Regions from separate parts of the Homo sapiens genome. Here region 2 is linked to region 1. Evidence: fine-mapped expression QTL. A gene starts in region 1. The other region holds a variant in brackets. All regions are shown on one strand. Distances are between the middles of the regions. Region 1 holds the start of FAM178B (family with sequence similarity 178 member B). Region 2 overlaps FAM178B (family with sequence similarity 178 member B).

What was found. PIP is the estimated chance that this variant, and not a neighbour inherited with it, causes the effect.
Region 2: its variant is fine-mapped to the expression of FAM178B in testis (GTEx, PIP 0.96).

What each region holds. Positions count from the first base shown.
Region 1 is chr2:96,981,481-96,989,810 of GRCh38, reverse strand. FAM178B (family with sequence similarity 178 member B) reads left to right here and starts at 3,231. Exons shown (of 17, transcript NM_001122646.3): 1 at 3,231-3,570. The coding sequence starts at 3,498. RefSeq lists enhancers at 3,153-3,673, 3,674-4,194.
Region 2 is chr2:96,927,775-96,936,104 of GRCh38, reverse strand. It overlaps FAM178B (family with sequence similarity 178 member B), which reads left to right. Exons shown (of 17, transcript NM_001122646.3): 9 at 6,785-6,899. Among named protein-coding and RNA genes, the nearest start is that of FAM178B, 55 kb to the left of the region's middle. The variant T/C (reference allele first, on the strand shown) is at 4,265.

The DNA of each region.
Region 1 (8,330 bases):
ACTCTAGGAGTAAGTGATCATTTACATGCTTCCTGGAGACCTCCATCCTCAGGAAAGCTAGAAAAAGCTACTTGTAAAGAAAACTCTGGCGAAGCTCTGGCAAGAGACTTCTGAGTCCTTATTAAAGTGATTGCCTCTAGCGTTCCTCCAAGTAAGAGCGGCTCCCAAGACCAATCTGCAACCCAGCACCTTTGAAATATTATATGGTCCTTTTGAGTCTTCACAGGGGTGCCTTGTAAAGGCATTAGAAAAATATACCAATGTAGATGCTGTCTCTGAGGCAGGTCAAATTCTTCTGGGGACTCATTTTATTAGTCAATCTGCTCCAGATATTAAGAGAAAGTTACAAAAACTGGCTGTAAGTCCCCAGGCACCAATGAATGAGCTAATTAATGTAGCCTTTGAAGTCTTCTATAATGAGACAGAGTAGAAGAGGCTAAAAAGTGAAAGAGGGAAGAGGCAAGAGACATAAACCAGGCCTCCGATTATTGGCCCTTGCTATCAGAGAGAACAAGCCAGTCCAGACCAAGCCCCAATCTGGGGACACCTGCTACACTTAAAACCAGGACACTGGCCCCAAAACTGCCAGACCAAGGGACAAAATGCCCAAAAGTCCGCTCCACCTAGACCATATCCACAATGCAGAGATGCCAGTCACCGGAAGCAGGACTGCCCCCAACTCCGTAGGGAGACAGGGGCTTCCAATTCCTTGATGGCCCTGACTAAAGACTGAGGAGACCCAAGGCTAACACTGGCTGTCATTCAGTCCCCATTACCACAGAGGAATCCAGTGACCCTGCACGTGGCAGGTGTAGCTAATTTTCTATTACATACAGGGACCAGCCTGTCAGTCCTTACATTCTGCCGTCGACCCTAGTAGGCCAAATAGGCCAAACACTGCACTGCCACGGGAATTGATGAAAAACCCGGACCAGATACTTTACCCAACCTTTTTACCTTTTTTTTTTTTTTTTTTTGAGATGGAATCTCACTCTGTTGCCCAGGCTGGAGTGCAGTGGCACCATCTCGGCTCACTGCAAGCTCCGCCTCCTGGGTTCATGCCATTCTCCTGCCTCAGCCTCCTGAGTAGCTGGGACTACAGGCGCCCACCACCACGCCCGGCTAATTTTTTGTATTTTTAGTAGAGACGGGGTTTCATCATGTTGGCCAGGATGGTCTTGATCTCCTGACCTCGTGATCCGCCTGCCTCGGCCTCCCAAAGTGCTGGGATTACAGGCGTGAGCCACCGTGCCCAGCCACCCAACCTTTAATTTGCAGACTCAAGGACGTGAATGCCTAACTCCCTTGTTGCTACCCTCGTTGGGGGCTTCTTTAAAACCAATGAAACCAACTGAACCCCTTCTCATAGGAGCACTCTCAAAAGCCCAGCTGACCACCATAACACACCATAGTCCAGAGAATCCAGGACATTGCCAGCTGGGTGCATCTCTCTAGGATAAAAACTGTTTCCCTTACGTTTCCACAGGACTCTACATCAACAACTAAAAATTAAAAATCCTTTTGTAAGCCTATAGAAGACCTAACATTCATTTTCAAGAAAAGATGCCAACACCCCAAATAAAGAGATTAATATTACTTTAACATAAGGTAGTCCCATCTCAGGTCTCCTATTTGTAGGAGCTCTTTTTGTTCTTCTGCTTGCTGAATAATGATGTGATGCTTCATTCTGCTACCTTTCATGGGACCTACAATAGCCATCTTATTACTACTGACCTTTGGTCCTTGCTTGTTTAAGCTCCTTTAAAGTCTGTGTCTTCTAGGTTACAACAATTCCTAGATTGATAGTTATGCAAGGATTTCAACTTATCCCAGTGGAGGATATGACCCCTATCACTTTAAATCAGGCAAGAAGAGACTTTCGGGCCCTGGTCCTGTCTCAGCACGAAGCAGCTCCAGAAAAAATGACCCAGCCCTCCACATTTCATAAGAACATGGACCCAAAGTCTCTGAGGGGGAAAATGAGGTCGGTTAGATACAGTGGTCATAGCCTCCTTTAAAGGGGAATGAACTTGCCAGATTGATGTAGAGAACAAACCGCCCACTGGTGCATAAACTGCATCAGGCTCCTAGTTAGAACATCCTGCAGCGAAGAGGATGAACAGCAGAAGGGAAAATCCCCAAATTCACACAAGTGCAGAAACCCATGATTAGAGTGTCCTTGGAATGACCTATGCTCATTTTAATGCTAAAAAACACACCCCTGGGTGAGGAATTAAAATGCTAATGAGACATGTGATGTGGTGTACTAGCACGCACATGCACATCTGGGAGACCCCGTAACATGCTTAACAGTAATGCCCATTCCCGCTCCTTTATGAATAATTATGTAAATCTCCCATAAAGGGAAGCTCATCACTGCCAAACAGACACAGCTATCTCACACGTGTGTGTGTGTGTGTGTGTGTGTTAGAGATGGGGGCTTGCTCTTTCGCCAGGCTGGAGTACAGTGCCACGATCTCGGCTCACTGCAACCTCTGCCTACGCCTCCCAGGCTCAAGTGATCCTCTCACCTCAGCCTCTGAAGTAGTTGGGGCTACAGGCACTGCACCACTATGCCCGGCTTTTTTTTTTTTTTTTTTTTTTTTTTTTTTTTTTTTTTTTTTTTTTTTTTGAGACGGCGTCTTGCTCTGCTGCCCAGGCTGGAGTGCGGTGGCGCGATCTCGGCTCATTGCAACCTCCACCTCCCTGGTTCAAGCAATTCCCCTGCCTCAGCCTCCCGCGCAACTGGGATTACAGGCGCACGCCAGCCACCAAGCCCGGTTAATGTTTTTTAATTTTTAGTAGAGACAGGGCTTCACCATGTTGGCCAGACTGGTCTGGAACTCCTGACCTCAGGCAATTCGCCCGCCTCGGCCTCCCAAAGTGCTGGGATTACAGGCGTGAGCCACCGCGCCCTGCCCACGCCAGGCTAATTTTTGTATTTTTAGTAGAGACGGGGTTTCGCCATGTCGCCCAGGCAGGTCTCTCACTCCTGGGCTCAAGCAATCGTCCCGTCTCAGCCTCCCAAAGTGCTGGGATTATAGGCATGAGACACCGCGCCAGGCCACTGTCTCACTGTCTTGGTAAATGCAAGCTACTACAAGTGCGCGTGACCCAGGACTGCCTGGGGGCAGGAGCTTCCGCCAGCCAATTCCCGCGCACGTGGATGCGCACGTGGAGGGCGAGCAGGAAGAGGGCGCGCACGTGGAGGGCTAACAGGAAGAGGGTGCGCACTTGGCCGGCGAGCTCCCCAGCTGGCGGCGGCGGCGGCTGTGAGCTGGCCGCTTGGTTTGGAGTCGGAACTCAATCCCCAGAACTGGATCTTTAGGTTCCACGTTGGCGGCCCTGGATCTAGGGACGCAACTCTTGGGGTCCTCCCACTGCGCCGCCTGGGGAGCCTGCTCCTGCTTCCTTTCCCGGCTAGCTGGCCCCGTCCTCTGAGGCCGTGCGAATTCCCGCCACCCTCCCTCACCCCGGAGCCCTGCCCTTCCCGCCCTATGTGGCCAAGGCTTCCAGGTGCGGGCCTCGCTCCACAACTCAGGAGGCAGGATCAGCGGCTCCATTTTACAGGTAAGGAAACTGAGGCCGAGGAACCGCAGGGGCGCGTGGTTAGCGCTCAGAGAGCACTCGACTTCCCTGGGACTCCTGGCTGGTCCAGGCCTTGCAGGTCAGCCCCGGTGCGGCCGCCGGGCTACTCTGGCGCTTTTCAGGTTCCTGCGACCCCGCGTGGTTCGGGTTCCGACGTGAGCCGGGCCCTCCTCTCCACAGGCCACTGCGCGGCCGGCCTTGGTGGGGTGGAACCTTAGATTGGTTTGAGAACTGGTTTATGTTTTGGTTGATGTGGCATGTTTTGTTTTGATTTTTAATGTTCCCCAGGGTGCAAAGGGTAGCTGGTGTTTTCTTTCCAGAAAGGCTTTCTATTCCCAGCCCCTGCCCGGTTTGATGGATGTGGAGTTTATGATGCTGGAGACCGTTTTCTTTGTGGGTAGAACGCATCTCCTTTCATCTTTCAAATTGTGAGCTCAGTCCTTGCTGACAGGAGCCGCTGCTCTCGCCAGCATTCCCAAGCTATTAAATATTTGTTTAAAAGGATGGATATAAAACATGATGTTAGGAATAAGGCGTCTTGAAAAAGCAGTATTCGCAGAAACAGCACCATTGTAATATTCTGAATTCATCTTGGCTCTTTTGACATCAGGGCCCAAAGCACTTGGGATTCCGTAATTATTTGGCCTCATGCTACACTTTAAGACAGATTATTTTATTTTTCTTGTAGTCAGGAAAGTAAAAGAACAAAAAAACTGAGATGACATGTTGAAATCTCACTGCGAGGACGCGAGGGAGGATGAGGGAAGCGGGGAGGGCGGCTGAACGCTAAAGGCTGGGGCTGGGGTTTGCAGGATTCGGGGAGACAAGAGCCCAGGCAGAGGGATGTGCTGGGCAGAGGGGGCGCCATCCATGGGCTGCATTGTAGAGTGAGCATGGCCAAGTCAAGGAGCTGAACAAGACGACTTCAGTCCTGAACCTGGAAAGAATGTGAGATGGAGGAGAAACAGGTCCTGGCTGGCGGGTATTGGGCCCCAGGAGGGAAAGAGATAACAAAGTTAAGTTTGGAGACTAACGCTGTCTCCTGTTTGACTGGGGGGCCTTCATATCCCCTCCCACGCTGTCAGGACACGTACTGTAGGCACTGGAGCAGGTCACACCAACTAGAATGATCGGTTTCCATCCATTCCGGGATGCATTTTTGTTCACATTTTAGCAGCTCTGAAGTTGGGCTGGGTCCCACAGTTTGTGTCTTTCTTTGTGTCATCGTTCACTTGGCAGCTTTTTGTCGGTCTTAGTGGCACAGAAAGTCACAGTGCCTTAAACCCAGCAGCATCTTAGCTGTGATGAAGGAGTCAGCCATGGCCTGAGTCCAGTAACTGCAGGATCCAGAGTTGGAGACGCAGGCAGAGAAGATGACCCACCTCAGCCTGCACCCTTTTGTTGTTTATGTCTTTGTCTTTGAAAGTGCTTGTTTCAAGGCATGTGAGGGAGGGGATTGGCAAAAGCAAAAACCTGGAAACAACAGATAGACAAATGAAAAATGTGTTACTTTGTGGTTGGGAGAGGGAAGAAACAGCTGGTAGCTGCATCTCCCTTCCAGGTAAAATTGGAATGCCATATAATCACTGGTAGATAGCACCTTTGAGTGAAAGGCATTTTGCAGCAGCTAGAGTCAGCTGCCCACTGAGCAGGCAGCCCTGGCCCAAGAGCCTCATAAGCAGCCAGCCAGTCTGAATACGCTGATTGGGCCAGTGAGCCCCAGGCTTCATCATCTGCTTGAGTCTTGGTGAGCCCTGGGTCTGTCCTATGACAGAAACTTCCTGCTGCTGTAAGCTCCTCTAGGGCAGAGACTGCATCTTCCTCATCCTTGAGGTCCCAATGCTCAGCATACTGCCTGACACATAGAAGATGCTAAATTGGGGTTTGTTGAGCGGGAACTGTATTGAACAGGTTGGGCAAATTGTCTTCCTGGTGGCGGAGTGAAAGTTTTTATGTACCACTTTGGCAGGGCACAGTGGCTCACACCCGTAATCCCAGCACTTTGGGAGGCTGAAGCGGCAGATCACAAGGTCAGGAGATCGAGACCAGCCTGGCCAACATGGTGAAACCCCATCACTACTAAAAATTAGCTGGGTGTGGTGGCACCTACCTGTAATCTCAGCTTCTCAGGAGGCTGAGGCAGGAGAATCGCTTGAACCCGGGAGGCGGAGGTTGCAGTGAACCGAGATTGTGCCATTACACTCCAGCCTGGGCAATAAGCGAAACTGTCTTGGAAAAAAAAATTCATAGCAGATTTATTCATAATACCTTGAAACAAGAAATAACTCAAATGCTCATCAACAGCGGAATGGATAAATAAGTAGTAGTTATTCATATGATGAAATATTGTATAGTAATAAAGATTACTGAACTGCTGCATGAACTACTGCTACAGGCATATAGCATGCAACAACATACATTTAGCAGTAGTTCGTGGATGATTTTCACATGCATAATGTTGAATAAAATATATGCAGAAGTGCACAAAATTGATGATTTGGCTGGATGCAGTGGCTCACGCCTGTAATCCCAGCGCTTTGTTAGCTGAGGTGACCAGATCACCTGAGCCTAGGAGTTTGAGACCAGCCTGGGCAACACAATGAAACTGTTTCTACAGAAAAATATAAAAATTAGCTGGGCATGGTGGCACATACCTGTAGTCCTAGCTACTCAGAAGGCTGAAGCAGGAGGATTGTTTGATCCCAGGAGGTTGAGGCTGCAGTGAGCTGTTATCACACCATCCGAGTCTGGGCAGCAGAGCGAGACTATGTCTCAAAAATATATATATATGATTTTATGTATGTGAAGTTCAAGAACAGGCAAAATAATCGGTGGTGATAGAGGCAGAGTAGTATAACCTTTGGGGTTATTGACTGGAGGAGGTACTTCTAGAATGTAAGAAATATTCAATATGTTGATCTGGTAATGGTTACCATATGTATGTATATGTGTATATATATGCACACACAGACACACATTTATACTAAATGTACACATATGTACATAAAAATCAATCATGCTGAACACTTAAGATTTGTGCATTTAGAGCCAGGCATGGTGGCTCATGGAATCCCAGCACTTTGGGAGGCTGAGGCAGGAGGATTGTTTGATCCCAGGAGTTCAAGGCTGACCTGGTCAAGGTAGCAAGAACCCTGTCTCTACAAAAATATTTTAAAATTAGCCAGGCATGGTGGTGTGTGCCTGCAGTCCTAGCTACTCGGGAGGCTGAGGCAGGCGGATTGCTTCGGCTCAAGAGCTGAAGGTGGCAGGAAGCTATGATGATGACAGTACACTCCAGTCTATGTGACAGAGAGAGACTATATCTCTAAAATAAAATAAATTAGACTGGGTGCAGTGGCTCACGCCTGTAATCCCAGCACTTTGGGAAGCCAAGGCAGGAGGATTGCTTGAGCCCAGGAGTTCAAGACCATCCTGGGCAACATAGCAAGAACCCTGTCTCTACAAAAAAAAAAAAAAAAAAAAAAAATTAGCTGGGCATGGTGGTGTGAACCTGCACTCCTAGCTACTCAGGAGGTTGAGGCAGGAGGGTTGCTTGGGCCCAGGAGTTCAAGGTTGCAGAGAGCTGTGATCATGACATTGCACTCCAGTCTACATGACAGAGACAGACTCTGTCTCTAACAAAAATAAATAAATAAATTAGGCCAGGTGCGGTGGCTCATGCCTGTAATCCCAGCACTGTGGGAGACTGAGGCGGGTGGATTGCTTGAGCTCAGGAGTTCGAGACCAGCCTGGGTAATATGGTGAAACTCCATCTCTACAAAAAATACAAAAATTAACCAGGCATGGTGGTGCACGCCTGTCGTCCCAGCTACTCGGGAAGCTGAGGTGGGAGGATGACTTGACGCTGGGAGGCAGAAGTTGCAGAGCCAAGATTGCACCGTTATACTCCAGCCTGGGTGACACAGCCAGACCCTGTCTCTAAAATAAAATAATAATATATATAAAGTATGTACATATACTATATGAATATATATATTTATGTACTGTAAGTTATACATCAATTAAAAAGTGAAGAATGTTTCTTGTGTGGGTTATGGATCCAAGTGTGAAATACAAAATAATAAAAATTCTCAAAGCTGGCATATGAAAATATGTTCATGACTTTGGAATAAACGAAGATTTTTTCTTTTTTTTTGAGACAGGGTCTTACTTTGTCACCCAGGCTGGAGTGCAGTAGTGCGATCACAGCTCACTGCAACCTTGACCTCCTGGACTCAGATGATCCTCCCACTCAGCCTCCCAAGTAGCTGGTACTGCAGGTGCACACCACCATGCCCAGCTAATTTTTGCGTTTTTTTGTAGAGACAGGGTTTCACTGTGTTGCCTGGGCTGGTCTCAAACTCTTGGACTCAAGCGATCTGCCTTTCTCAGCCTCCCAAAGTGCTGGGATTACAGGTGTGAGCCCCTGTGCCCAGCCTAGAGGACAGTTTCTTTCTTTCTTTTTTTTTTTTTTTTTTTTTTGAGACGGAGTCTCACTCTGTCACCCAGGCTATAGTGCAGTGGCGCCATCTCGGCTCACTGCAAGCTCCGCCTCCCAGGTTCACGCCATTCTCCTGCCTCAGCCTCCCGAGTAGCTGGGACTACAGGCATCCACCACCACGCCTGGCTGATTTTTAGTAGAGATGGGGTTTCACGTGTTGGCCAGGGTGACCTCGATCTCCTCACCTCGTGATCTGCCTGCCTTGGCCTCCCAAAGAGGACAGTTTCTTAAACAGGATACA
Region 2 (8,330 bases), 54 kb after region 1:
GAAAGTAGTTTCTGTATACTCATTCTCCACTCCCACCCACCCACCAGTTTCCTCTATTATTTACATCATATGTTAGTGTGTATATTTGTTACAATATCAATACATTATTAACTGAAGTCCATAGCCTAAATTAGGGTTGTGTTGTGCAGTTCTATGGATTTTAACAAATGGCCAGGCGTGGTGGCTCACGCCTGTAATCTCAGCACTTTGCGGAGCCGAGGCACGTGGATCACCTGAGGTCAGGAGTTCGAGACCAGCCTGGACAACATGGTGAAACCCCCTGTCTACTAAAAAAGTACAAAAATTATCCAGGCGTGGTGGTGCATGCCTGTAGTCCCAGCCACTTGAGAGGCTGAGGCAGGAGAATTGCTTGAACTTGGGAGGCAGAGGTTGCAGCGAGCCGAGATCGTGCCACTGCACTCCAGCCTGGGTGACAGAGCAAGACTCCGTCTCCAAACAAAAATTAAAACCTGAAAATCCAAACTGGGAGAGAATCTGATAGATTATTCATTTAGGGACATTACTGGGAAACTCTTAGGTTGAGTCTAAACCAGTCTCAACCTTTTGCTTTCCAAACTTGGAAGGGTAGTTTGCTACTGCTACCTTCCTGAGTCGTGCTGAGGGAGCCCTGTATCCTTAAAAACAACCAAGAATGCATGCTTAGGTGGCCAAGTGAGAAGGCGATTGCCTGGAGCTGAGCCGTAATAGCTGGGCCTCTACCAGCCGTGCTGGACCGTGATGTGACCTGGAGCATGAGAGGCACATGCTAAGAACAGCAGAGCTGAGAGACGGGCTCCTGAGATCCTGCAGGTACAGTTGGGTCTCTGCACCGGCTGTGACCTGCCTACTTGCAGACTTCTTTTTTGTCAGAGAATAAAATTCTTTTTGAAGGCCGGGTGGGTTTTTTTCTTTTGTTTTTGTTTTTGTTTGTTTGTTTGTTTTAATTTTGTTCCATTTTGTTATTTGTAGCCAAACCTAATTCTAGCAGATATGAGTGGTTCTGTGGTTTGGCACAATGTCGCTCTGTCACGCATACCGGGGGCCTCGAGTGCTTGCTGGTATTAGGTGACACCAGGCAGTGGTGTGAGTTACAGAAGGGCAGGGGAAAGGAGAGGTGCCCTGGGGATGGCATCACCTGCCCTGTACACATTTCTGTGAATAAGCAGGCCAGGGGCCTATAGAGATGGTGTTGGCGGGTGCAGAGTTGGTTATAGCCAGGTAGGGAGGTTGTCAGGGGCACCACAGGAAAGGCCTTGGGCTCAGGGTGAGTGGGGAGAAAAAGGAAAGAAAGGCACCCTCAGAGCTGGCTGCAGGGTAGAGAAGAAACAAAAAGAAGGTTCCAAAAGAATGTGGGTGCAGATCTGGAAAAGAGCCGGTGAGAGAGAGACCAGGAACAGCAAGCGGTCAGCATTTCGCAGTGTCTCCCTAGACACACGGTTTTCTCAGGAGAGGCAGTGGCACTCTTTGGGAGAACGCCGGTCTGCCTGCATCCTGTGCTTACACTGTCATCGGGGCAACAAAATGTGCATGTTTTTAAAATAGGAAATGGATATGTCATAGTGTGGGGATACAGGATTTTTTTGTTGTTGTTGTTGAGGACCTGGCTCCCTTTGGTAATGACACTCCCTGTTTACAAGTCCAGTGGCTTCCCTTCATCCCTGGTCCTTGCCCCAGTCTTCCAGGCCAGCTGATCTGCTTCTCTCTCGCCCCCATCTGCCTCTCCATCCTCACCTCCAGCCCCTGGCCTTGCACCCACTCCAGCACCCTGGGCTCCTTGCTCAACCTAGAAGACAGCCGTGCTCCCTGGCCTCAGGTCTCTGCCAGGCTCCCCAAGTCACTCAGGGTGCTCCAGCGTCCCCTGACCACCCTTCCTCCCAGCCACGGATGCCACCCAGCATCATTGGGCTTTATGTATCTTTCATGTGTGCGTTGTGTGTCCCCCACCCAACACCAACAACCCGAGAGCAGGGCTGCTTTGTGTTTTGTTCACCACTGGGTCCCTGGCATTTAGAACAGCACCTGGTGTTTGCTTGCCATTTGCTGAGTGAATGCACGGTTGAAATGACTAAAGCTAAAGCTAATTGACTAAAGCTGGCAATATTGAAACAAGTTTAAATTTAAGTAGAAAAGTGCTGCGGGAAGATAAGTGATTAGATTTGGGAGGATATGAAAGAATTGGATTTTAAGCCTCCCGTAAACATTGTGAGCCCCGCACTCCAGTTAAGATCGGACTCAGTGGGATGGGTAGCTTGCTTTCCTTTAGGAACCAGCCTCCTGGCCCTCTTGCCCCCTTGCCCATTAAGGCTGATGGGGACCTCCCCTCCTCCTGTGGTATCTCGGATTCAGGGAACTAGAACTCAGGCAGATGGTGCTGCTTGGCCCTCCCAGTGCAGCCACCCAGCAGAGCTCATTAGCTGTTTGATTTGGGGGTTGGGGAGGATAAGAATGGAGCCTGCAGACCCAGTCTCCTGCCGCCAAAGCCCTAAGGCCCAGGCTGAGGACTCAGGGCACGAGGGAGGCCCAGAAGGGGGGCAGGAGCCAGGTCTTGGAGCTGAGGCTGGCGCTTCCAGTGACCGAAGAGGTTCTTGGGATGTGCATGGATTTCCAATTCCATGTAAGAGGTGCCAGGAGAACGGTAGTGAATTAACAGCTTCTTCCACGACACAGATGGAAAAGCCACTTTTATTTTAGGCCTGATGATTTTCTTCCTCTATCTTCCCCCCATACCCCCAAGTGTCAGTTCCATCCCAGAAGGGTAACCTAAAGGGACGCCTGCAGACTCACAGCCTCTTACACAGAGCCCAGAGTCTTTGGGCTGTTCATGCTGGCAAATTTTTTTAATTTTTTTTTTTATTTTTTTATGAAACGGAGTCTCGCTTTGTTGCCCAGGCTGGAGTGCAGTGGCGCGATCTCGGCTAACTGCAACCTCCACCTCCTGGGTTTAAGCAGTTCTCCTGCCTCAGCCTCCCAAGTAGCTGGGATTACAGGCGTGCACTACCACGCCCGGCTAATTTTTGTATTTTTAGTAGAGACCGGGTTTCACCGTGTTAGCCAGGATGGTCTTGATCTCCTGACCTTGTGATCTGCCCGCCTGAGCCTCCCAAAGTGCTGGGATTGCAGGCGTGAGCCACCACGCCCGGCTTTTTTTTTTTTTTTTTTTTTTGTGAGACGGAGTCTCACTCTGTTGTACAGGCTGGGGTGCAGTGGCACGATTTCAACTCACTGCAACCTTTGCCTCCTGGGTTCAAGCAATTCTCCTGCCTCAGCCTCCTAAGTAGCTGGGATTACAGGCATCCACCACCATGCCCGGCTAATTTTTTTGTATTTTTAGTAGAGACAGGGTTTCACCACATTGACCAGGCTGGTCTCGAACTCCTGACCTCAGGTGATCCACCCACCTCGGCCTCCCAAAGTGCTGGGATTACAGGCGTGAGCCACCATGCCCGGCCCATGCTGGCATTTTAAAAGACACAGTGTTCCGGTGCTCCCCTGGGCATCACCTAAAATGACTGTTCTGTGTCTGGAGGAACTGAGTTGGGGAGCTGGAGCCTGGCAGCCTGACATCTGAGTTTCCTCTGTGTCAGCTCTCCAGAAAGCCCTCATCGGGGACAAACAGAGCTCAGGAAAAGCTGAGTGCATGGCCCACTTCTAGGCAGTGTTAATTATGGGCTCCGGGGTGGTATTTTCCTGTCCTCAAGTCACCAGCCTCCACGGCTGCTGATAGGGACTTAACTGTCCCGAGGCCTCCCAGGCCCCTCCTCTGACACTGCTCCTGACACCTTGGCCTGGGTCGTGCTGTGCTGTGGAGCAGTTGCTGGGTAGGAGAGGGGAGAAGGGATGATGCCCAGCTGGAGGCTGGCAGAGTGGGCACTGCTGCCTGTGAGTCAGGAGGTTTCACAGCAGAAGATGCCTCTGTGTGGGCTGGGGTGGGGATCTCAAGGGGAGGCGGGCACAACCTCCTTGGGGTCTGAGGCTGCTGGCGGGAGGTTCCAACCCACCTGGGCCTCCCGGGGCCTCGCCCTAGGTTGATTGTCTTCCCCTCCCTGGAAAGTTCATCTGCCCGCCCACAGGTGCATGCACATACGTGCACAGTCCCCTGAAGGCCCTGGTGAACAGTTCTCTCTTTCCAGTGGAGTCTCATTGTGTTTTGCAGACTTCATTCTTCCCAGCTCGTTTGTGAGGCGAGTAAGGGGTATCATTACCACTCTTTACTTGTTAAGTTGCCCAAGAGAGGAAAAAAAAAAAAAACAAACAAACAAGAAAG[T/C]TTTTCCTCCTCCAAGAGTCTAATTACTTGTTTGGTGAGTCTCAACCCATATACATTTCCAAAGAGGGATACTCGATGCCTGCCGAAGAAATGTCCTTGGGCAGGTTTCAGAGACCCTCTGCCCGCCATCCTGCCGTCTGCCAGCACTGCAGCTGGGCAGGACTGTTGCCAGCACTTTTCAGTGAGCTTAGGAAACTGATTCTTACGGTGGTCCTTGCGGAAGTCCCCACCCCGCAGCAGCCCTCCCTGCTTTGTGCCTGTTCTGCCTCCAGTCTTGACATGCCATGCTGCTTTGTGCTGCCCTGCCTCCGTCTTTTCTGTCTCTGTGTCAGAAAAGAGACATTCCCATTCCACCTTCCACATTTCATATTCCTTGTCTTGTCCGCTCACCACCTCCAAGTAACACCTGCTCCTCTGAGAAGGCTCTGTACCTTTTACCTGCTTTGATTTTTGCATAAAGACATTCACTTGTATTTCTTGATCTGGCTTCTGTTCCTCCTAGACCATGAGCTCCTTGAGGTCAAGGTCTCCTCTAGCTTGCCTTTTTATCTTCCACACCTAGCTAGTTCCTGAACACAGTGGAGTGTGCTGAAGTGGGTCCTCAGGGTGGGACACTCACCCTCTAGAATGGTGAAGTCTCACGTATGTGCTTCTGATGTATCCCTAACCCAGCTTCCAGGTTCTTGAATCTGATGCCCCACCCATTGTCAAATTTAACATCTGCCTTCTGGATACTGCCAGCCCATCTTATGACTTGTTTTCAGTCTCCCTGTTTTGGTCCATTTGAGATGCTATGACAAAGTACCTTAGTCTGGGTAATTTATAAACTGGGAAATTTATTGCTTACAGTTCTGGAGGCTGGGAAGTCCAAGATCAAGGTACCAGCAAATTTGGTGTCTGGTGAGAGCTGCTCTCTGCCCCAAAGAGGAGGTCTTCTGGCCAATTCCTTATGTGGCAGAAGGGTAAAAGGGGCAACCAGCTCCCTCAGGCCTTCTTCCTTTATCAGGGCACTGATCCCATTTGTGAGAGCTCCATTCTCATGACCTAATTTTCCTCCCAAAGGCCCCACCTCTTGATGCTATCACACTTGGGATTAAATTTCAACATATGAGCTTTGGAGGCTATACATAAACACTCAGAACATAGCACCCTCTTAGCTGTGTAGTACTTGGTCAGATTTGTTTTGGATTCTCTCCATTCATTCATTCTAATTCTTCCATGCACCGGCCACGTTTTTAGGCATGGGGCCTGTAGAGATGACCAACACAGATGTGGCCCCTGCCCTCGTGGGACTCCTGTTCTACCGGGGAGAGACAGAAGGAGAAGCAAGTCAACTGCTAAGTCGGACAATGCTGAGGAATGAGAGCAGAGTGGAAACATAGGCTCTGTCCCTGGATGAGGTGTGGGAGCTCACGGTGCAGAGAACACATGGGGCAGGAGGTCTTGGGCAGCCATCCTTGGAGAAGACGTCTGGACCCATTCTTTTTTATCTTTCTACTCTCCCACTTATAAAAATGTCCTTAAGTAGTCTGACAGAAAAAAAGGCCCTGAGTACCTGAGTATGTAAGGTTCTCCCTGTTTGCTGACGTGGTCAGATTTTTTTTTTTTTTTTTTTTTTTTTTTTTTTTTTGGAGAGACGGAGTCTCGCTCTGTCACCCAGGCTGCTGGAGTGCTGGAGTGCAGTGGCTCTATGTCAGCTCATTACAACCTCCACCTCCCAAGTTCAAGCAATTATCCTGGGACTACAGGCTCATGCCGCCATGCTCGGCTACTTTCTTTTGTATTTTAGTAGAGATGAGGTTTCACCGTGTTGCCCAGGCTAGTCTCGAACTTCTTGAGCTCAGGCAATCTGCCTGCCTCAGTCTCTGAAAAGTGCTAGGATTACAGGTGTGGGCCACTGTGCCCGGCCGATGTGGTCAGACTTTATCATGAATGTTTGGTTAAATTGGGCAAGGGAAACTGGTCCCCATAGCGCACACTTGCTTAGGAGACACGCCCCAGGCTGTGGGAGGCAGGCGAGGTGTGCTCCCAGCAGGGATGGTGGACTAGGGATGCCCAAATGTTGCAGCAGCAAGAGTGCTGCAGAGGCTGCAGTGGGCTGAGTGTCAGCCTCGGTGCTTTGCAGCAAGAGAGTCTAAGGACGTGAGCCTGGTGTCCAGTGAGCCTTGTAGCTCGGGGCCTCTGGCACAGGACTCTTCGTGTCACTTGGCTGTGGGCAGCCGAGCACCCTGACTACTGCCTGATGTGGATGGCCAGATGGTCAGGGAGTGGTTGACCCAAGTGCAGCCATACCTTGAAGACCAGGTAAGAGAATATTCAAGAAAACATTGAAATTCACAAAGCCCCAGAAGTACTTGGAAACCACCAGTTGCTTCATTTCCCCAGATAACACCTGTGGTGTCAGAGAAGGCAAAAACTGGTTATCTTGGGCCAGGGGTCACGGCCAGCCCCTTCAGTGGGAGTGGTGCACCCTGCCCTCCGTTCCCCATTCTAACTCTCTGCTCCCTTTTGGCCTGACAGATGAAGACAAGCACCTGTGGTGCCCCTCACTGCAAGAAGTCAGGGAGGCATTCCACAGCCTGGGTGCCCACAGTCCTGCCCTGTACCCTCTGGGGCCCTTTTGGCACGGTGGCAGGTGAGTACTTCTGCTTCCTCACTGCCTTTTTCTTTCATATTTTTTAAGAGACAGGGTCTCTCTCTGTCACTCAGAACTGGAATACAGGGGTATAATCATAGCTCACTGCGGCCTCCACCTCCCAGGCTCAAGTGATCCTCCCACCTCAGCCTCCTGAGTAGCTGGGACTACAGGTACGCACCACCACGCCTGGCGAATTTTTTAATTTTTTGTAGAGGTGGCGGGGGGGGGTCTCCCTACGTTGTCCAGGCTAGTCTTGAACTCTTAGGCTCAAGCGATCCTTCTGCTTTGGCCTCCCAAAGTGCTGAGATTACAGGTATGAGCCACCCCATGCCCAGCCACCTGTTCTCTTGTTTGTTTGGAAGTTGCTGGACTCAGGCTGTATCCCATGTGTAGGGAATTACAGAACAACCACACACCCCCGCCTGAGGATCTGAGTATCACACCAGGAAGGAATTTCCTTGCTCCCAGCCTCAGGGAGATGGGAAGCCCCCAGGATGGATGAGCCTGTTTTTGGCACTTCCTGACTCAGCCCCCGCTGCCCCCACTCTCTGGTGAAACCCAGACTTCACAGCCTGGTTAGTATCCTTGCAGACACGTCCCAGTCCCTTGAGTCTCTTCAAGCCGCTTGTTTGGCCCGTTACCTAATATCCACTCAGGAACAGCAGGGCATGCTTTTATGTTCCCACAACCCTCAGTTTTGTGTCATGAGTGCCCCCGTTGAGCCCCGGGCTGACTTGCTCGTGGACAGTCATGATCATTTGCCTATGCCTGGTCCCTGCCTGTGGGGAGGAGTGCCACGTGATGCATAAATAGCTCTGGTGGGCGGATGGCGACTTAGCTTAAGGTCGTAAAAGTGTTATATATCGTCATCTTGTTCTACAAATTTTAGCACATCCAAACTCTCTTGAGAACCCTTGAAGAAGGTGATTTGAGATGGAACAGAGTGTTTTGAAGCCTGGAGGGGCTGTTGTATAGGACTTCCCCCCATGCTTCCCGCTGACAATCCGTCAGCGCCAGGAGGTGCCAGGCCCCCCTTCCCTCGCCTCGGCGGGCAGATGTTCCTCTGCATGGAAAGTGGGAGCTCTCCTAAGAACCTGTTCCACGACTGTGTTTAGCAATTGTCTGCCAAGCCAAACCACACTCAGCTCTGCTATAAATACCCCACACATGTGCCAGCCTGCCGTGCTCCTGCCCCTTTCCCTCCCGGAGCTCGCAGCTCCATGTCTGGTGTAATGAGCCACTTGCCTCCTCCTGGCACAGAGCTGCAATCGCACACCGTCTTGGATGAGCGGGGGAGAGAATTACACTCAGAAAGACAAATGAACGTCTGAGGCAGGCAGGGGCCGTGGAGTCCAGAAGAGCCACTTGTGACTGCTGTGATGAGTGTCCCTGTGTCCTCCTGGGAGTGGGAGGCGGCACTGGAGACAT